4 separate regions of the Homo sapiens genome follow, and all the other regions are linked to region 3. The links come from fine-mapping of genetic effects on gene expression. A gene starts in region 3. Each other region holds a variant in brackets. All regions are shown on one strand. Distances are from middle to middle.

What was found. PIP is the estimated chance that this variant, and not a neighbour inherited with it, causes the effect. A credible set is the group of variants that fine-mapping cannot tell apart.
Region 1: its variant is the best candidate, but not a certain one, in a credible set for the expression of DLG5 in whole blood (TOPMed, PIP 0.53).
Region 2: its variant is the best candidate, but not a certain one, in a credible set for the expression of DLG5 in whole blood (TOPMed, PIP 0.79).
Region 4: its variant is the best candidate, but not a certain one, in a credible set for the expression of DLG5 in monocytes (Schmiedel 2018, PIP 0.80).

What each region holds. Positions count from the first base shown.
Region 1 is chr10:77,948,134-77,953,443 of GRCh38, reverse strand. No RefSeq gene overlaps it. Among named protein-coding and RNA genes, the nearest start is that of DLG5-AS1, 24 kb to the right of the region's middle. RefSeq lists enhancers at 3,614-4,151, 4,152-4,689, 4,690-5,227 and a silencer at 3,979-4,273. The variant G/A (reference allele first, on the strand shown) is at 2,708.
Region 2 is chr10:77,867,493-77,872,802 of GRCh38, reverse strand. It overlaps DLG5 (discs large MAGUK scaffold protein 5), which reads left to right. Exons shown (of 32, transcript NM_004747.4): 2 at 3,606-3,674. Among named protein-coding and RNA genes, the nearest start is that of DLG5, 57 kb to the left of the region's middle. RefSeq lists an enhancer at 4,349-5,310. The variant T/C (reference allele first, on the strand shown) is at 2,425.
Region 3 is chr10:77,923,509-77,928,818 of GRCh38, reverse strand. It overlaps DLG5 (discs large MAGUK scaffold protein 5), which reads left to right and starts at 2,064. Exons shown (of 32, transcript NM_004747.4): 1 at 2,064-2,602. The coding sequence starts at 2,299. It overlaps DLG5-AS1 (DLG5 antisense RNA 1), which reads right to left and starts at 2,007. Exons shown (of 1, transcript NR_024585.1): 1 at 1-2,007. RefSeq lists a silencer at 195-371.
Region 4 is chr10:77,791,226-77,796,535 of GRCh38, reverse strand. It overlaps DLG5 (discs large MAGUK scaffold protein 5), which reads left to right. Exons shown (of 32, transcript NM_004747.4): 28 at 1-85; 29 at 348-475; 30 at 1,578-1,687; 31 at 2,419-2,528; 32 at 3,993-5,310. The coding sequence ends at 4,096. Among named protein-coding and RNA genes, the nearest start is that of DLG5, 130 kb to the left of the region's middle. The variant AC/C (reference allele first, on the strand shown) is at 2,980.

The DNA of each region.
Region 1 (5,310 bases), 25 kb before region 3:
ACACCCAGCAAGATCCCACCACCTATTTCTTCAATGCAATGCAATTTAAACTGCCAACCTGCTCCTTTTCTGATCTGGGCCAGTTCACCCCTCCTTGGGCAACCTGGTGGTCCTCTGCTCCTGGGAGGTCATCATATTGATGCCGAACTTAGCACCCGATCGGCATAGCATGCTACAGCCCAGAACTCCTGGGCTCAAGTGATCTTCCTGCCCCAGCGTCCCCAGGAACTGGCACTACAGGTGCAAACCACTATGCCCAGCAAGAACATAATTTATATAGACATTCCATATGCAAATATATAAACCTGAGACAAAAACACAATACTGTTGGGGTTTTGGTTGTTTTTGTTTGTTTTTGAGACAGCGTCTCACTCTGTCACCTAGGCTGGAGTACAGTGGTGCGAATATGGCTCACTGCAGCCTTGACCTCCTGGAATCAAGCAACCCTCCTGCTTCAGCCTCCCATGTAGCTGGGGCTACAGGCACATGCCATCACACTCAGCTAATTTTTTTATTTTTTTGTAGAGATGGGGTCTCACTTTGCTGCCCAGGCTGGTTTTGAACTCCTGATCTCAGTCCTCTACCTCAGCCTCCCAAAGTGCTGGGATTACAGGTATGAGCCACCATGCCTGGCCACTATTGTTTTTTTTTGTTTAGGGGAACATTCAAAGGACAAAAAAGGAGCTCTTTAAACTTAAAAATATAATGTGAGAAATCAAAAACTCAGTAGAAGGATTGGAATATAAAATTGAGGAAATCTTACAAAAACATAGTCACAGAAAATAGGAGAGAATAGATAAGAAAATTAGAGGCCTAATACAGGAATTCCACTTCCTGAATAATAGGAATTCCATTAAAAAAATAAACAAAAATAAACAAAAAACAACAGAGAAAAAGGAATGGAGGAAATGATTAAAAAAACACCTGGGCTGGGCACAGTGGCTCACACCTGTAATTCCAGCAGTTTGGGAGGCCAAGGCGGGTGGATCACAAGGTCAGGAGTTTGAGACCAGCCTGGCCAACATAGTGAAACTTCATCTGTACTAAAAATACAAAAAATTATCCGGGTGTGGTGACAGGCACCTGTAATCCCAGCTACTCAGGAGGCTGAGGCAGGAGAATCGCTTGAACCTGGGAGGCGGAGGTTGCAGTAAGCCGAGATTGCACCACTGCACTCCAGCCTGGGCGACAGAGCAAGACTCTGTCTCAATAAAATAAAATAAAATAAAATACCCAAAGAAAATTTTCAAAAACGGAGACATATATTTCCAGTTTAAAAGGGCCCAAGATTTCTTGGCCCAATGGATGAAAAGAGACCAACATCAAGACAAATCATTATAATTCAGAACACTGAAGACAAAGAGAAGATCCTGCAAGTTTCCAAAGGGAAAGGGGAGGAGGTCAGGCATTAGAGTGCCTTGAATGTCTCAATAGATGCACTGGAAGTTAGAAGATAAGCAATGCTTTCAAACTTCCAAAGGAAAATCATCTCCAACATAATTCTTTTTTTTTTTTTATTTTTGAGACAAAGTCTCACTCTGTTGCCCAGGCTGGAGTGTAGTGGCGCGATCTCAGCTCACTGCAACCTCCATCTTCTGACTTCAAGCAATTCTCCTGCCTCAGTCTCCCATGTAGCTGGGATTATAGGTATGAGCCACCAGACCTGGCTAATTTTTTGTATTTTTAGTAGAGACAGGGTTTCACCAAGTCTCAAACTCCTGACCTTAAGTGATCCACCCACCTCGTACTCCCAAAGGGCTGGGATTACAGGTGTGAGCCATGGAACCCAGCCATTCAACTTAAAATTTTATACCCAACCAAACTATCTTTTTTTTTTTTTTTTTTTTTTTTTTTTGAGATGGAGTCTTGCTCTGTCGCCCAGGTTGGAGTGCAGTGGCGCAATCTCGGCTCACTGCAAGCTCTGCCCACCTGGTTCACGCCATTCTCCTGCCTCAGCCTCCCGAGTAGCTGGGACTACAGAACCAAACTATCAATCAAGGTTGAAGATAGAAAAAGACATTTGAGTCATTTAAGGTTCAGAAAAAAATGTTTATATACTCAGGAGGCTCCTGGATGATAAGGTAGTAAACCAAGAAAAAGACAAGGGGAAACAGGAATCTGACATGTGATAGATAAAGAGAATCCCCCAGGATGTTGGTAAAAAGAGATTGCAAGATGACGACAATGCAACAGTCCTATAGGACAACCAGCCTAGACCAGATAAGGTCAGAAATGTCTAGGAGAGATTTCTTCTTTTCTTTTTTTTGAGATGCAGTTTTGCTCTTGTCACCCATGCTGGAGTGTAATGGTGCGATCTCGGCTCACTGCAAACTCTGCCTCCCCGATTCAAGCACTTCTCCTGCCTCAGCCTCCCGAGTAGCTGGGATTACAGGCACCTGCCACCACGCCCAGATAATTTTTTGTGTTTTTAGTAGAGATGGGGTTTTACCATGCTGGCCAGGCTGGTCTCAAACTCCTGACCTCAGGCGATCCACCCATGTTGTCCTCCCAAAGTGCTGGGATTACAGGCATGAGCCACCGTGCCCAGCCATGTCTAAGAGAGATTTCTTCAAGAAAATAAAATTGGTAGAATATCATCTGAAAGTATTAAGGGAAGATTATAACAACTGAAAGAGCTTGGCATTAAACACATAGGAAACTAAGTAAATGAATTGGGGTGGGGGCGGAGATAATTATTAGCTCCAGG[G/A]AAAATAAAAAATTGTGCATAGTCCATCACATGGTAATAGTCTTTACATAGTGGTATTAATGTAAAAACTGGCTATTGCTCTAACCAAATTATTGTATGACTGTAGTGGAAAGATGGAGGCCAGGAAGGGTGCATGGGTTGTTCAAGTATGGAAGACAATAAATAGTGCCTAAAACTGAAAAATCATGACGTAGTAATAAAATAATATTATTGAGGGAAATGGAGACAAATGCCAAAAGAATGAGCTATAAAAATTGAAGATGGCCAGGAATGCTGGCTCACACCTGTAATCCCAGCACTTTGGGAGGCCGAGGCGGGCAGATCACTTGAGGTCAGGAGTTCAAGACCAGCCTGGCCAACATGGAGAAACCCCATCTCTACTAAAAATACAAAAATTAGCCAGGTATGGTGGCATACGCCTGTAGTCCCAGCTACTCGGGAGGCTGAGGCAGGAGGAGAATCTCTTGAATCCGGGAGGTGGAGGTCGCAGTGAGCCGAGATCACGTCGCTGCACTCCAGCCTGGGCAATGGAGCGACACTCTGTCTCAAAAAAAAAAAAAAAAGAAAAAAGGTGAAGATGATTATCTCTGCTAAGGGGAAGGGAGAGGGCTCTTTTTCATAAATCTTGCACCATCCCTTGACTTTTTAAACTATATAAATGAATAACTTAAATAAAAATTAAAACTTTGACCCAATTTCTATCTCCGAAAGTACAAGCTGAGGCAGGCAAACACACAAAGCAATGTACAGACAAAGCATCCGAAACCTGAAAAGGAAAGTTAAGTTGTACACAGGGAAGAACAGCATACATGTAGGTAAGAGGAACAGCAGGACTTCTGGAAATAGGCTGAAGATATTAATGATATGTCCTTAGACTCATCCAGGAAACCATCATATTTAACATGACCTGGAACTTGACCTTCCAGGATGCAGTCTGTTCTCCCAGGGATGGGAGGTGGGAGCTTCCCTAGGGAAAGTAATGTGGGATGGAAGTTTCTAAAAGCCAAAGCAGCCATCACTCTCCCCTCACTTCCTGTTCCTCTTCATCCATCCTCTGCTCCATCCTCCACCAGCCCCTCAGGACCCAAGCTTAGAGATATTGACCTGTGCTCATGTTTGCGAAGATCAAACTGACTGAGGGGATTAGGATGCGCTTAAGAGCCAGCAGACAAATCTGGCTTTACTTTTACCCCTGCATCCTCTCTCCCCAGCCATGTTTGTGGTATCTGGGCAGACAGCTCAGCCAACCCACCTGCACAGCTTCCCCAGACATTCCACACCCAGACAGTGGTGCCAGGAGTAAAGCAGCAGAGAAAGGGAAGGTATTAGGGGAGAATTAAGGTGAGGAAGTGACTCAGCCCCGCATAAGCCTGCAGGCATCCGGAGGAGTTCTCAGGAGGCAGTGGCGGCTGGGCCGAATTTCAAGCTGGCCTGTGAGTGAGGCTGAAATGTGACTCGCTCTGCCCCGCCAGGCACTGAGTGTGGTGGGGGGAGGGCTGGCTAGGGCTGGCTGTGCTCCTGTCCCCAGCTCGGACTCCCAGAACATCCCTGGTGGGCTGGTTGGGTTTGGAATCACTGGATTTTGCACGGCAATGGGTTTCTTTCTTCTGCGTTTGTTTGCCTTGCATAGGGTGGAACCAGGTAGAGAGGTGACTAGTAGAGAACATGCTGCCTTTCAGTCAGACAATTCAAATTCAGGCTCTTGACCTTGGACAAGATACTAGCCTCTCAGAGATTGTTTATTCATGGAGCAAACCCTGGAAAACAAAATTACCTTGACTGTTCGTCAAATGCGTTCACTGTGTAACCACCTCTAATATGCCAGGGTCTGGGTTCAGTTTAGAAATAATGTTTAAAAGTAAGCCATCTCACTCCATTAAGATGGCTACTATCTGGCTGGGCGCGGTGGCTCATGCCTGTAATCCCAGCACTTTGGGAAGCCAAGGCGGGAGGATCGCTTGAGCTCAGGAGTTCAAGACCAGCCTGGGCGACACAGCTAAACCCCGCCTCTACAAAAAAGACATTTAAAATTAGGCAGGCGTGGTGCCATGCACCTGTAGTCCCAGCTACTTTGGGGTGCTGAGGCAGGAGGGTTGCTTGAATCGGGAGGTAGAGGCTGTAGTGAGCCAAGATTGTGCCACTGCATTCCAGCCTGCGGGACAAAATGAGGCCCTGTCTCAAAAAAAAAAAAAAAAAAAAAAAGATGGTTACAATGAAAAATTTAAGAATATATTTAAAAATAGACTGGGCACAGTGGCTCACATCTGTAATCTCAGCACTGTGGGAGACCAAACCGGGTGGGTCATTTGAGGCCAGGAGTTGGAGACCAGCCTGGACAACATAGCCAGAACCTGTCTCTACATAAAATTAAAAAATTAGCCAGGCATGGTCACACATGCCTATAGTCCCAGCTACTGGGGAGGCTGAGATAGTAAGATCCTTGAGCCCAGGAGTTCAATCCTGCAGTAAGCTATGATCATGCCACTGTACTGCACTCCAGCCTGGGCAACAGAGCAAGACTCTGTCTCTATAAGTAAATAAATACATATTTTAAACATAAATAAAAACCAGAAAATAACCAGCCTTAGCAAGGATATGGAGAA
Region 2 (5,310 bases), 56 kb after region 3:
TGGCGAAACCCCAGAGGTAGATGACGCCGACACCTGCCCCTCCGCCCCATGGAAGCAACCGGCCTTGAAAGGACACCGTGTGACTTTGGGGGACAGTGGCTTCTTTTGCCTTTTCCTGACTGTCCTGACCACACAGGCCTTTAGGACAACAATAACCGCAGAGACAAAGCATGACCGAGACAATGTCGTCTTTGGGCCTTTTTTCCCCCTTAATGACGTCCAAGGCTCTGGGAACATTGTAAAAACTGGGTCCTGTCCAATTTTAACCACTCCCCCCACCAGCTCCTAGGAGCCCTGCCAGCTCCCTGGGTTGGGGGTGGGAGTGATGCCCAGAGATGCACACAAAGATGTCACGCTGCCCTGGTTAGGCCCCAGAGGCCAGTCAGGACTGCAGGGACAGGGAAGAGGAACAGAACGTGTCGCTTGGCCTGTGGACTCCCCCAGCCAGGGAGGTAGGTGGGCGGAGAGAGGGAAGGGCATCTGCCAAGCTTAATTAACAGTGGAAACTTGCCACAGGGGAGGAGAGAGACGATTTGAAGAGGAGGGGCAGTTTACTGGAAGAAGGGGCACTGCTGATGCCAAGAGTAAGAAAGAGGGGAGCGTTCCAGCAGAGGCATCTGGAGCGCAGGCTGCCAGTGTCGTAAGCTGGGATGGGTTGAGCATAGAGATTTCTGGAGGTGAGAGTGGGGAAATTTATTTGTGCCTGCTTTCCTGAGTAGACGTCTTCCAAAAACAATCCACCAACATGTCAGTGGCTAGCCTTCCTTGCCCCCATAAAGAAAAAATACTATTTAAAAAATGGTAGTTGAGTTTAGAAAATAGGCATTGTGTTGGGTTCTTGTTCTTTGAAGATATCAATGGATTGCCCGAATTGCATTTGACTTTATTTCACAGATATTGAAGCAACATGTAATGTGTATGATATAGAAAGAGAGATGGGTTAAAAAAACATGTGATGCAGGCCAGACATGGTGGCTCATGCCTGTAATCCTAGCACTTTGGGAGGCTGAGGCCTGGTGGATCCCGAGGTCAGGAGTTCAAGACCAGCCTGGCCAACATAGCAAAACCCTGTCTCTACTAAAAATAGAAAAAATTAGGCAGGCATGGTGGTGGGCACCTGTAATCCCAGCTACTCAGGAGGCTGGGGCAGGAGAATCGCTTGAACCCAGGAGGTGGAGGTTGCAGTGAGCCGAGATCGCGCCATTGCACTCCAGCCCAGGCGACAGTGCAAGACTCTGTCTCAAAAAAAAAAAAAAAAAAAAAAAAGTGTGATGCTTATTGTTTTTGTTGAGACAAAAATGCAGAGATATTGAATGTACAGCAAAACTAATAGTGTGGGTTGGACTTCAGATATGGGAGGTGGAGCATGGGTTATTCATTATTAGCAGGATCATAGAATTTTAAGGCTGAACTGGGTTTTCTGGTTTCATCTCCCTTCAGATGCACAGACTTCCCCATGACATCCATGCCACTGAGTGCTGGGCCTCCCTCACTGTCTCACCCCCTCACCCTCAGGCTTTTCATACCTGGCAGTGCTGACCGTGGCCATCCAGACCTGTTTAGAGATGCAGCTTTCTCCAGCATCCACCCGCTGCTCCTGGTTTGGCTGCTGGAGGCCATCAAGAACAAATCTAATCCCTTCTGACAGTCGTATTGAGAGACAAGACACCTACCCATTCCCCAGTCATTCTCTTCAGCCCATGCTCAACGCCTTCAGATTCTTCAGAGTCTCTGAAAATGTGATAATGAGGCTACTGGTCATTGCCGGTCACGCCTGTCCTAGTGCTTGCCATTACCAAAGTTGCTTTTTGCTTGCTTTCTCTTTTTTCTCTCCCCCTTCATCTCTTTTTCTGATGGACACGCCTGCTAGCTCGCCTGCCTGCAGTCTATCTCTCTGCCCTCCTGCATGGTCCTCACCTCCCCAGCAAAGTCTCCCTGCTTTCCCCTCAAGGTCTCTCCTGTCCCCCAGGGGCCTCCCACCTACAGTGCATCTCCCTCCCCTGCCCCGCTCCCCCATTTACCCCCATTTCTTCATTTCTCCTCTTTCCCGTCCAAAGATGCGTGTAGGGTGGCTAGTCAAGAATTGCAGTGGAAGAGTGTTTTTTGTTTTTTTTTTCTGAGACAGGATCTCACTTTGTTGCCCAGGCTGAAGTGCAGTGGCATGATCATGGCTCACTGCAGCCTTGACTTCCCTGGGCTTAGGTGATCCTCCCACCTCAGACTCCCAGGTAGCTGGGATTACAGGTGCGTGCCACCACGCCCAGCTAATTTTTTGTATTTTTTATAGAGATGGAGTTTCACTATGTTGCCCAGGCTGGTCTCAAACTCCTGAGCTGAAGCAATCTGCCCACCTTGGCCTCCCAAAGCACTGGGATTATAGGTGTGAGCCACCGTGCCCTGCTGGGAGCTCCTTAAATGTGGTCC[T/C]CCACATTTCTTGTTGTGGAGCCCAGGATCTCATTAGTTCTTGGCAGCTTTCTGATGCCAGAGCCCTAAGGCTTGTTCAAAGCCCTTATTGCAAAAATTCCATCTCCAGCTCACCCACTTGGCCTGGTACATACCGCTCTTCATTGTATAGTTCTTTTGGCTCCAAGAACAAAACACTGGATTTGTCCTTGTTTTATCTGACCTGCCATCTCTGTGTGTTATGCTTTGTCCACTCCCAATTTAGTCTCTGAGTCAGTTTGCCCTCCCTTTTAATTTTATGTCATCCATAGTCTTGATGAGCAAAGTGTACCTTCTGTTTCCATTAATCATGGAAATTGCTGAAATGGGATGGGGGATGGGGGATGGGGGATGGGGTAGGGACCTTATAAGCCATCTGGTTGAACTCCTTCATTTTGCAGACCAGGAAACAGAGTTCCAGAAAACAAAAGCTACTTGCTCAGCACGACCCAGCTATGGGCACCTACATAGAGCTAGGTTCAGAAACTGGGCTTCCCGGTGCTGGGAGGGTAACATCTGGTTTTGAAGATATTTGAATTCAAACCAAACCACAGTGGTTGTGTGTCCACAACCAGGAATTAACATTAAGTGTGGACAAAAAAAAGTGCTACCCTCTGGCTTTGGTGATGGTACAATTGCTCATCATTTTAGGAGTAACTTTTAATAAGGGGGCAGATACTAAGTAAATTATTAAGAACTGAGCTTGAATACAGTTAGAACCTAAAGAGCAGAACAGTCAGAGAAAGAACAGATAGTTCAGTTGTTCTTTAATTTCTGCTCTGTTACCCTCTGCATGGAAGCCAGAATCATATTGCTAGAGATGTGGAGGAAACCCCCACACCCCATGTTTACCTGGGGCATGTCACTCCCTTGCTAAGCCTTTCCCCAGATGTCCCAACAAGAAGCCAGCTGACTGACTCCAAGTTCCCCTCTGCCCGCCTGCCCAGAGCAGGAGGGGCCGATAAAGTGAGGTGGGAGGCCTGGCAGAAACACCGAAGTCCAGATCTGCTGAGCGCGCCTCCTCTGCTTGGCCCGTGGATGTGGATTTCTAGTGCCTGGTGCATGTAGCTCTCATGGCCTGGCATTGACTGATGATCAGCTGGCTTGGGGTGAAGACGAGTGACCCCTTGGGGTTAGTAACATGGTCTCCCCTCTTTCCCCAGGTTCTACCTACAGCGTCCTGTCCACCATGCCCTCAGACTCAGAAAGCAGCAGCTCCCTCAGCAGTGTGGGTGAGTACCACTGTCTGGGGAGGACACCGGGTGGGCCAGGGGTCTGGGTGAAAGCCAAGGCAGCTGGGGTTCATGGGAGAGGAAGCTGGTTCTCCCTTGTCAGATTACTCACAGGATCATCCTTCCGTTGATTTCATTTACATTTTCTCCCATCATCAGAAACCCAGTTCTGATGTTAGAAGGAGGTGGGGAGGTGAGTGCTGGGAAGCACATGTTTTGCCATTGTTTACTTTGTCAGGGCACAGGGCTTCTAGGGGAGCCTGTTGACCCACCATCCCCACCCCAACCCCAAAGGCCTTGTAGTAACTCAGTGACCACTGCCCAGGAGACTCACCCCTTTTGGAGTTTCCTTGGGGATAGGCATTGCCAGTCCATGCTGAATTGGGTGTGTTTCTCTGAATATGGGTTTCAGAAAGCCCATAAAATGAGGCCAGCCCTTCTCTGAAGTCCAGCAGGAAGGCCGCAGTGGTTTCTCAGGCTTCCCACACCTCTGTGACCCATTCCCTCTGTTTAGCACCTCTAGTGGGGTTTCTCATGGCCTGATCTGACCATGATGGATGCAGACACCTTCAGTGGTGAGTCCCGGCCATCTTTTGAGCCCGAAGGACTCACAGAGGTCATCTACTCCAATTATTTTCTTTTCCCTCTGCAGAGAGATGGGGAAATTGACATTCTGGGAGGGGGAGTCACATGCCTGAGATTCTAGAACTAGTCAGGACAGCTCTTTCATATGTCAGCTCACATCTTGAACACCTCCAGTGTGCCAGAGGTGGGCTTGGGCCGTAGTGGCGAATTAGGCAGATGTGGGCCCCACACTCCTGGATGTTAGGGTCTTTTGGTGGGAAACAGTTAAATAAGTAGCTGCAGTAAGGGAAGGTAGTGTGATAAGAGGGAAGACAGTGACCAGCCGGCGAGTTCCATCTTAGTTTTCTAGGGCTGCTATAACAAAGTGCCGCAGACCAGGTGGCTTACACAGCAGAAATTGATTGTCTCACAGTTCTGGAGGACAGAAGCCCAAGATCAAAGTGTCAGTGAGGCCACGCAGGCTGAAGGCGCTAGGGAGAGATCTGTCCCGGGCCTCTCTCCTCGCTTCTGGTGGCTTGCTGGTAATCCTTGGTGCTCCTTGGTTTGCCGACATCACACTGATCTCTGCCTTTGTGTTCACATGATGTTCTCCGTCCATGTGTGTCTGTCTCCAAATTTCCCCTTTTAATAAGGACACTGGTCAGATTGGCCTAGGAGCCTGCCTTACGGCAGCAAGACCTCATCTTAAATTGATCATCTGTAAAGACTATTTCACCATCAGCAATAACTGCTGTGGGCTGAGCAGTGTCCCTCTCGGGACTCCCCTTTTAGAATGCAAATGCGCCTCGGAAAGATAACGCTTTGACCTTTCCAAATAAGGTTCACATTCACATTTACTGGATTGGGACTTTAGCATCTTTTGGGGGGCCACAACTCCACCCATAAAAACACAGTTCCTCCCATAACCCTCATCCTGTTTAGGGCTCAGGGCAGGCCCTTCTGGGACTGCAATTCAAAGCTCCCAACGGTATCCTATTACTTTGTTCTGCCTGCTTTTGGTGCCCGGAGACATATCAATGGAATGATGGGATTGTTGGAATTTGGAATGTGG
Region 3 (5,310 bases):
CTGAGCTCAGGCAATCCGCCTACCTCAGCCTCCCAAAGTGCTGGGATTACAGGCGTGAGCCACTTTGCCTGGCCAAAAAATATGCTTCTAACCATAAGCCAGATTCGTCTCCAACTTTTCCTCTTTTCCCCTTCCTCCACTTTCACCTTCCTTCCTCCAACTAGCTTTCTAGTTAATCCAGCTAAGAACACAGGTGCCGGATGAAAGGTGCCTGAAAGGTGACTGCCTTGCAGATGATTTAAGCTCTGGGGTTGCCCTAAGGGAAGTGGCGGCCAGAAAGAACTATATCTCAGGAGCAGGACTGGGAGGGAAGAGCCAGGGAGCCTGTCTGGAACCCTGATACTGTGCAATGGCCAGCCTTCCACTCCTCTAAAACCTTGCTTAGCCATAGAGGGTCAGACTACGGGAGCAGGCAGGTATCTTTAAATAGTTCATTTCTGCCATATTGGGGTCCATCTGGAGGTCTTAAAGAACTTGTAACTCTATGGACCCCATTCCAGAAAAATATATAAATGTTCACAAAAAAGTTGAGATCATGTCAAAAGCTTCATTGACATCCTTGAGCTTATTCATGAAGCCAAGGCTAAGAACCCCTGATCTAATATTCTCCCTCCACCATTTTTCCTAAGGACAAAACAGATCAGCAAGGATTATTGGTTTGTTCCACCTTGTGCAGCTGCTTAGAGGGGAGTCCAAGTCCAAAGTGCAAATTCTGATACTCTTGTTCTTTCTACCATATAGTGAGTTCGTTTCCATAAATAAAAACGACTTCTCCCCTTGAAGAAGCAGACTAAGAAGACACTGCTTTTTGAGGGAAGGGAGGAGGCATGTGGCTGGGACTGGCAGTGTGGGTAGACAAAGTGCCTCTCACCCCCAGCGAGATCCACTCATTCCAACGTAGATATTTGAAATGGACCTGGGTTCCCACTCTACAGAGGAGCACTGCGGGATCACTGAGCGCAGTCAGAGTTCCAGCTTTGAAGGACCTTGTCCTGCAGTCAGGGAGGTAAGCAGTATGTGTCCACAAACGGCTGTCGTGGAAGAGAAGACATTCTTGGGCTTTAAGGGGGACTGCAGATCCTTTCCAAGTCATCAAAGGAAGCAAGGTAGTCCGCTGATTTGTCTCCCTCTGAGACATTTAGGGGGAGAGCGCCTCACTTGCCAGAAAGACCAAGGACTGCACCGCAGACACCCACCTTTCTTTTCCTCATCCGGCGACACATCCTTCCTCCTGCCAACATCCTAACTCCTTTACACTCTGGGGACCAGCTCTTCTCAAATGCTGGCGCGGGGAACAGCCTATTTACCGCAGTTGAGGCGATTTTACTGGGAAATTCTCTTAGGAGCTCCTTGGAGAGGGAAAGCCTCACGGATTCGGCGGAGGTCTTAATCTGGAGATGTCCAAATTTAGGGGAAACCCTCCCCACCATTTGTCTCCAGGCTGTATTTTGGAGTTCTCAGATTAGGACCCTCTGGACTGGGGGCAAGATTTGTATGAGGGGGTCTCCAGCAGCTTGTGGGCTGGCCGCGTGCCAGGCCTGACTCCGTGTCCCCCACCCCCGGCTGCGCCTGGGCCTCGGGGGACCGGGAACCAGCCGGCGCCGCGTCCCCGCCTAGCGGGCGGGCCGGGGACCCCTCCCCTCCGCCCGTCCCCTCCTCCCCTGCTGCCGCCTCCCGGAGGGACGGCCTGGGGAGGGGAGAGAGGAGGGACGGGCCGGCGGCGGCGGGGCTGTGGCCACGGGGGAGCGGGTGGCGGCCGCGGGGCCCCGGTGAGCCGGGCCGGGGTGCACGGGGGCCGAGGCGGCCTCCGAGCCGGGCCGGAGCTGTCGGGAGCCTGGGAAACACGGCCCAGGCGACTTTCTCCCGGGAGTTGTAGTCTTGCTCTGGGGGCGGCGCGCGGCCCGGCTTTCGGGGCGAGTTTTCTCGCGGGGCGGGCGGCGCGCGCGGAGGCTGAGGGGGAGGGGGAGCATGCCCGGCTGGAGCCCGGCCTCGGGGCGCGCCCCGGCCGCCGTCCCCACCTCCGCCTCCTCCTTCTCCTCCTCCGTCTCCTCCTCCTCCTCTTCCAGTCCCGCCGCCGCGGCAGCCAACATGGCTGCGCTCCGGAGCCCGGGAGGCGGCCGCTGCTGAGCGCCGCCCGCCGCCCCGGGCCCCCAGCCCGCCCAGGCCCCGGCCCATGGCTCCCGCCGCCTCACGGCTCCCGGCGCCCTAGGGCTGCTGCCGAGGTGCTCGCCTGCCCGCCCGCCGGCCTCGGGGGGCCCGGGAGGCGTCCGGCGGGGCGGGGCGGCGCGGCCCGCCACCATGGAGCCCCAGCGCCGGGAGCTGCTCGCCCAGTGTCAGCAGAGCCTGGCCCAGGCCATGACGGAGGTGGAAGCCGTGCTCGGGCTGCTCGAGGCCGCGGGAGCGCTCAGTCCCGGCGAGCGGCGGCAGCTGGACGAGGAGGCGGGAGGCGCCAAGGCGGAGCTGCTGCTCAAGCTGCTCTTGGCCAAGGAGCGGGACCACTTCCAGGACCTGCGGGCGGCGCTGGAGAAGACGCAGCCTCACCTGCTGCCCATTCTCTACCTGAACGGCGTCGTCGGGCCGCCGCAGCCCGCCGAAGGCGCGGGTGAGTGGCAGACCCTTGGCCCCCGCCTCTGGGACGCGCCCTCCGCTTCTCCCTCCTGCTGGCCGAGGGTACCTCGCCGGGGCCGCCGCTCCACCTGGCGATGGCCTCGGTGGACTCGCTCCTCTGGCCCAGTTGGGGAGGCGGCGGTGCGCGGATCCCGAAGTCCCGCCGCCTCCCCCAGTCCCGCCGTTCGCTGTGAACAATGCCCCCCGCTGAAGGCCTTCACTCTCAGGTGCCTCGACGACAGGGTCCCCGGGGGCCACCAGGTCCAGTAGCGGGTAGGGGGTACCTCGGAGGATGTCCATCAGTCCCTTTTCTGAGGCTCCTCACCGTCCGCTAGCTTTGGCACCCTGTGCTAGCCTTTAACCAAGGGTACCGTCCAGAAGAATGGGACTTGGGCCAGGACCCCTACTCTTAAGTTTTGGTCGCTGCCATCCTGTGCCGGGGCCACAACTGCTTTTTCATTTTCTGGCTGTCCCAGCTCCTTTTTCTCTGCTCAGAGCCCAGTCTCTCCCAGACTGGTGGCTGATTGTGCACAACGCCTGCCTGGGTTTCTTTGGAAACTGGGCCCGGAAAAGTTGGGGAAGTTGCATTGCACCATGGGAAAATCCTAGTAGTGGCTGCTGGGGCTAAGTTCTCTCCCTGAGAGCACAGAGCTGCTTAACGAGGAAGGCTGGTGACTGGTTCCCTTGAGGGTGCCTTTTGGAACCCCTGTGTCTTTGGTCTTGGGGATGACTGATTTGTAAGTGTGTGTCTGGGTGCAGGAACGGATACTGGCGGGAGTTTCTGACAAGTGGTAGGCTTGTCCTGGCCTGGCCGTGGAGTGTGGAAGCCAGCCTTTTTAGACAAGGCAGCTGGAGGAAGAAGACATGGCACTGAGGGAGGAGGAGAACTAGCATTTATTGGGCATCTACTGTTGTGGCAGGCGCTCTGCTTTATCACGTTCAGTTGTCGTTGCCACTATGTGAGCTTTCTGTTATTCTTTGCCAGAGAGAAAACTCTGGCTTGGAGTGGTTAAAATGCTCAGAAAGTATTGGGCACCAGGAATTTTGAATTATAACCTATTGTTTGATTTAACTTGTTCAGAGCCAGGAAACAAAGTGCCATCTTTCTAGGTCTTGTCCCTGTTTTAACAGTGAATCGATAGGTACAGTAAAAATAAATAAGGATATATGTATAAAAGAAAAACAAGTGAACCGAGAGGGCTGAGAAACTGCCCTTAGCAACCTGAAGGTCAAAGGCTGATGGGACCCATTTATTTGGCTGTTAAAAGCCCCACTTATTAAGGGAATGATTTTATAAGGCATTCCTGGTAACAGCTCTCTTACGTTGGCCATCTTAACCTCAATTTTTGTAGCTGCAGGAAACTGACAGAGAGACTAAATTGCTGGCCACACAGCAGGTCATTTCATTGGTGGCCCTCCCGTCTCCACTTTGAGCTTCTGACTTGCATCTCTGTCCCTCAAACCTGCATTCTTTCCCCCCAGTTGTGGTCATGTCAGAGTTACTGGGCAAACCTAGTCCTTTCCTGGGATAGTGCTTTGGGAGATGCTAGGAAGGGACTGTCAGATGTGGCCATGAGGATAAGGACAGAGGGGATCTCAACAAAGTAATTTTTTTCTTTTTAATTGTATCTATGTATCTATCTAATCTATCTCTGAATGAAGAAGTTAAGATCTGTTTCTGAAAGTCTTTCGTAAAGCACAGAACTTAGTACAGACTGGAAGTCTGCGTTGGGAAGCATGTGAATCAACGCTCGCCTTAATCTCTGAAAATTGATTGATGGATCAATTGCCATTAATTAGGTCTCACCCTTTCCGTGTCTGGTGGAGAATGTGGGGCCTCATGGGGCTGAAGTTCTAGGAGCTAGTCTTGACCTCTAAGGAAGGCAGAGATTAGGGTTTGGATTTTATCCCCTAGGGCATTGATTTCAGACCCCAGTTTTACCACAATGCAGAGTTATGTGACTTTGGAGAGGGTCATGAAATCCTTAGAAAAATACTTTTCAAGGAGAAGTTAAGTTCATTTTACTTAATGCATTAGAAAAACGCTGGTTGGGTGTGGTGGCTCATGCCTGTAATCCCAGCACTTTGGGAGGCCGAGGCGGGCAGATCTCTTAAGGCCAGGAGTTCGAGACCAGCCTGGCCAACATGGTGAAACCCCGTCTCTAATAAAAATACAAAAATTAACTGGGCGTGGTTGTGGGCGCCTGTAGTCCCAGCTACTTGGGAGGCTGAGGCAGGAGAATCACTTGAATCTGGGAAGTGGAGGTTACAGTGAGTTGACATGGTGCCCTTGGATTCCAGCCTAGGTGACAGAGCAAGACTCCTTCTCAAAAAAAAAGAAAGAAAAAAGTTAGGACAGCATTTGGTATGGCAAGATGCCACCTGAAGCCCCTGGGGAAGAGGGTGACATGGTGTGTCAGCAAACAGTGGCGTGTTGGGGGCTTTTGTTTTTTTGAGACAGGGTCTCACTGTGTCACCCAGGCTGGAGTGCAGTGGCACAATCTCGGCTCACTGCAGCCTCCGCCTCCTGGTCTCAAGCCATCCTCCTGCCTCAGCCCCGCAAGTAGCTGGGACCACAGGCACATGCCACCACACCAGCTAATTTTTGTATATTGTGTAGAGATGGCATTTCTCCATGTTGTCTAGGATGGTCTCGAACTCCTGAGCTCAAGCGATCTGCTTGCCTCAGCCTCCCAAAAGTGT
Region 4 (5,310 bases), 130 kb after region 3:
GTCCTGATTCTGGGGCCTTTGCTGGACGTGGTGAAGGAGATGCTGGTGAATGAGGCTCCTGGCAAGTTCTGCAGATGTCCCCTTGGTAAGGGGCACGGGGCACCCTCTGTGCCTACTGGGCTCTTTGTCTCTATGTCCCTGTCCACCTGCCTGCCCAGCTGTGCACAGTGGGTGGCAGTACCGGGGGGCAGATTTCACAGTGTTCCAGAAGCCTGCTGACATGGGTCAGATTCATGCATGGCAGGACTGGGTTACTGACAGCTGCTGAGCAGTGTTCTTCCCCTGCTCCCTCTGCTGGGGCTCAGCAGGGCCTGGGGCTCCCTGATTCCTGTGTCTGTGCATTGCAGAGGTGATGAAGGCCTCCCAGCAGGCCATTGAGCGGGGTGTCAAAGATTGCCTGTTTGTCGACTATAAGCGGAGAAGCGGCCATTTCGATGTGACCACTGTGGCGTCAATAAAGGAGATCACAGAAAAGGTACCCAGGGCTTCAGTCTGAGGATTAGGCATCCAGTATTAGACCTCCTGTGCACAGGTCTAGGCCCCTGGTCCGTGATCCTCTGCCCCAGCGGCTCAGACCTTCAGTGAGCCCACCGTGTTGTGTTAGTCTGAGTTCACCTGTGCCTGGGCTTGCCCTCATGGCTGCTGTGTGTTTCTGCAAGCACATCCCTTGGTGGGGATGGAGGAGTTCCCCTGTGTATGTGCCGCCCCATCTTCCTCTCTGGCAGGTGCGGGGGGTCTCATCTCTGATGAGAGTATTGAGCTCTGCGGAAAGGCCTCTCGCAGGGCATTCCGGAACGGGGTCCCCAAATGCATGTGCCGAACAATTTCACATGCACCTTCTGGGGACAGGAACGTGCCTTCCCTCAGGGTCCCTGCCCCTAAAAGGGCTATGACTCTCGGTGCCTTCGAACATCCTAGGCAGCACGAGGGCGGGGACGTCTGTGGGGAGTGCTGGTGGGGCAAACACTCGGAGTCCAAGGACACAGCCGCTCCTTGGGCTCCATTTCTCCAGGCTGCTCAGCTCGCTCGCTGGGCTTTGCTTCCCTTCTCTGTTAGATGAAGGTGTTGGCTTCTCACTGCTGAAAGTGGGCAAACTCTACTTGGGGGAATGCCCCAGTGGAGCATCTGGGGGTCGGGAGTGCACGGGCCTGCACTCCACCTGGATGCCTGGGACGACAGACATGACAGACATATTTCAGTCTCAGCCACACAAAGGCTCACCAGACTCTGGCTCTTCATTCGCTCAGTCTGGCAAAAATAAGGCTTCAGAGGCCAGGGTGGGGCAGGGCTTTCAGAAGGTCCCTGTATCTGGGCAAAGGCGGGAAAGGAAGTTTGGAGTTGGGCTGGCCAGCACCCCTAGCCCCCTAAGCCCTGGCTCCCAGCCTTGGCCTTCCTCACAGCAAGTGGGGTTTGTTGGGAGTTTCGTGGGTATGGTTTCCCCACGGTGTACTGTGTGGCTTTACTGCCTTGTTTGTGGGTAGAGCCCTGTGAGGTGAGGTGGGTCCTGCTGGTGGCAGGACAGGGGGCTGGCTGCCCCTCACTGCCCGCCAGGGCTCACTCTGCACCCCCCACCCCAGAACCGACACTGCCTCCTGGACATTGCTCCGCACGCTATTGAGCGGCTCCACCACATGCACATCTACCCCATTGTCATCTTCATCCACTACAAGAGCGCCAAGCACATCAAGTAGGTAACTGGCCCCCTGGGCTCCGCTGGGGCCTTGTCACAGGTGGGGCTGGGAGCCCAAGTAGGGAGCAGGGTGTGTTGGGGTGGGGGGTTGAGGAATGAGAGATGGGCCTATGGGTCTTGAAATAGGCAGTACGTGTAGAAAATGACCCTTCCCTGTCGGCCCTGTCCCCTACTCAGAGGTGGTGTCAGCCAAGCGCAGCCCCTTCCTCGCGCCCCTCCGCCATTTGGGTGCTGCCACTGTTTTTTGGGCATGGCCAGCTTGGTCTGCACAGCTCCCCTCTCCTGCCCCAGCCCCCTTTCCTCGCTACGTGCTGCTTAGGAGCAGGGGAGCCAGTGGCCTGGGCACAGTCCCACTCAGCCCCGAGCTGGCTCATGACTCAGGAGCCGTTGCCTTCGCTGAGCTTCGGCTCCTGTGCTGGTTGGGCCAAGGGCTCACCAAGGCCCTGCTCCATTTTGCCTTTCTGTGCTGCTGAGCTTCTGGGACCTGCGCTAGGGGCTGCTGGTGCATCTGTTCCAAGTGTGTGTGCTGGGGGGCCCTCCTTCCCCCATCTGCCCAGAGCTCCCCCGACAGCCTACAGGCTGTTGCTGTGCTTTATGTGGGGAGCACATGGGGCCTCCCTCCACAGCCTACCCCTGCCTTGATGGGGCCCCTGTTAGCCTGGACAGAGGAAGGAAAGAGGGCCTGGAGGAGGCTCAGTGCTCAGCCTGGTGTCTGGCTGTCCCCACAGGGAGCAGAGAGACCCCATCTACCTGAGGGACAAGGTGACTCAGAGGCATTCCAAAGAGCAGTTTGAGGCGGCGCAGAAGCTTGAGCAGGAGTACAGCAGGTACTTCACAGGTAGGTGTGCGTGGGCCTGGAGTGGGGAGCAGGCAGCAGGGAAGGAAGCAGAGGCTTCCTAAGGCTGTTTTCTTAGCCGTGGAGAAGCCCGCACTTTCTACATGCTCCCAAGTGCTGTCATGAGCACGTTCCTGACAAGTCAGGTGTTCAGATTGCAGTCCCTGGCCAACGTCAGGATTCTTACAGGTTGAATGTTAAGCTCACCGATCTTGGCCTCAGGTCCTGCCTGGCTTGCCTGCTCATTTTCACACGTGCAGTGGTGGGTCTGTCTCATAGCACAGGTGCAGTTTAGTGCAGCCACAGTGTCCCCAGGCAGGGCGGGGACTGGAGCAGCCCCCAGTGTGCCAGCAGTGTGGGCAGCGGAGGCTAGGGGCCCATCTGTCCCTAGCACCCTCCAGGGCAGTCCCGTTTTGCAGCGGGATTTGGCAAACCCCCCTCCAAAAAAAAAAAA[AC/C]AAAAAACAAAACAAAAAAAAACAATGCTGTCCCCTTACCATCTCTGGTCTTCAAAGTGAAACAAACTCAGTGAAGTTTGGTTCTATTTTACCTTCTGGCCTTCAGCCTCTTTGGGAAAGTCTGTCATTTGCAGGGCATTAGCATTTGCAGTCACAGAGGATGGGACAGGGATTCTAACTGCATTGTGGAGAGTGTTATGATCTAGTCCAGGGACCTGGGCTTGGTGCCCATGTGTGTGTAGGTATGTGCAGGTGTGCATGCCTCTGTGTGTGTGTGTGTGTGGGTGTGTGTGTGAACTTTCATTTCCAATTCCTCACAGACTGGTATTTAGCCAAATACACTGACAATTCCTAGAGAGATGAAAATTTAAAACTCTAAGTCTTGCAAAAGGTAAGCTCTATTTTTTTCTTGTTAGATTCAACAGACATAAAATTACGACGTCCTGTTTCCATAGCAGTTTCTAGACACTCACTGTCAATTTCTGAGCATGCCTTGTTGCAGTAGGGGCTTGGTTTGTGTCCAGGTGCTGTTATGTGGAGCACACTGGAGTACCCCTGGCCTGGTGTCTATAGACCCCTTTGTCAAACTCCTATAGTACAGGGCTGGCCCAAGTTGGCGCCATCATCTTTCTGTGACTCTCCTCTTGGCCATGAGCTATCTGGCTCCTTAAACTTGTCGTTTCCTGCAGAATCCTGCTAATGATTAGACCACCGCCACATGTCCTCCAAACTTCCTTCTGATGCCCTGGGATTCCCCCAACCATTGCAAACCCAACCCAGGGTGTTAACTGCAGTGGGGTGGGCAGTTTACATATGAGTGATCAACTCAAGAGGGGCAATTTTCTTTCCCAGTTTCTTGCTGGTGAAGGAGAGTCAGGTGGGGATGGAGCAGAGTGCCAAGGAGCACAAAGCAGACAGCCACACAGTAGAAAGAGTGCAAGCTGTACTGCCTTGCCTCAAACCTGGGGTCTTACTCTGAGCTGAATGACGTGTCTGGGGGGCTCTTTTGCAGGGGTCATCCAGGGAGGAGCCCTGTCAAGCATTTGCACTCAGATCTTGGCAATGGTCAATCAAGAACAAAATAAAGTCCTGTGGATTCCAGCCTGCCCGCTCTAGGAGAATGCTGTGCTGTGGATGACTGCAGCTGGCCGCCTGAGGGGACACCAGACTCAGCTCTTTTCTAGCGACTGAAAGTAGAAGTCTGTCCGTCTATGAACATGCGGGGGAAGGATCCGGAACCAGGACCCAGAAGCACCTCCTTTGTAGACAGAGGGCCACGGCTGCGTGCGATCCAGGCCCAGGCCCACACACTCTGCCCGTGTCACACGTGTGCTTTAACACAAAACAGATAACACTAAAGACGGGTTCAGCACCCACCTTTCTTTAGCCAGCTGATCAGAGATGCTGCAAAGAGAACCTTTCGGATCACTCGTTTACAAGCCTTTTCTAAGTATTTGGTGGTTTATGTTTACTTGAACGGCTCCATGTTGCCGGTGCCCAGCCCCTGTCCCCTCTGTCAACCCCCTGTCGCTTTGGTGTTGGTTTCGTTCCCGTCTTCAGCAAAACGACCTTGGAACCTCAATGGGGGCTGCTTTGCTTTGGGAGGTTCTTGTTGGTGGGACCAGAGCTTTGACAAACCTCCTGCTCCTTGGTGGCACCTCTCCTGGAAGGACGTCACAACTCCAGGTGCTCAGACTGCCTGTGGCAGCAGAACCAGTGCCTTTGGCATTTTCCTCCCACAATGGGGAAGGTGACTTTGGCATTCTTACAAACTCGTCTCTCGGCCTTTCTCTCCTGCCTTCCACAGCCTCTCGTTTCTCCTCCATCTGTGCTTATTACTTGAGGACTGTGTCTGCTCCGTGAGAGCTGCGTGGGCAGGGCTGCAGTGGGGTCCAGGTGGTGTTCAGCTGTGCTGATGCCTGCCATTGGGTCCTCCTTAGGCTCTGTAAGTCGTGACAGCCTTCATCAGTGCAATGTTTGCAGGGTAATTCTTAAACTTTTTAGAGGGTGGCAGGTACATCAGTTCTTTTTGATATGAAAACATTCATGTTTCAGACATTGAATTGAGAGCTTTTAGGGGAAGCATAATGGTTATTGTCACTATCAACAGTCTAAAAAGAAAAACTGAGGTCTTTTTAATCTTGATTACAGCACTCACGGCATGCACCCTACTCAGTGTGGGTGTCTTCGTTTGGGGGCTTTTTTTTTTTTTGCACTTCTGAGGCTAGATATGTCTGGCTGAAGATTTGATGTGGTTCCTCCTTAAGCTATGCGTCCTGTTAATAATAGGTACTGTACTGGGCTCTGTGTAAGTGTCGTTGGGGTAGGAC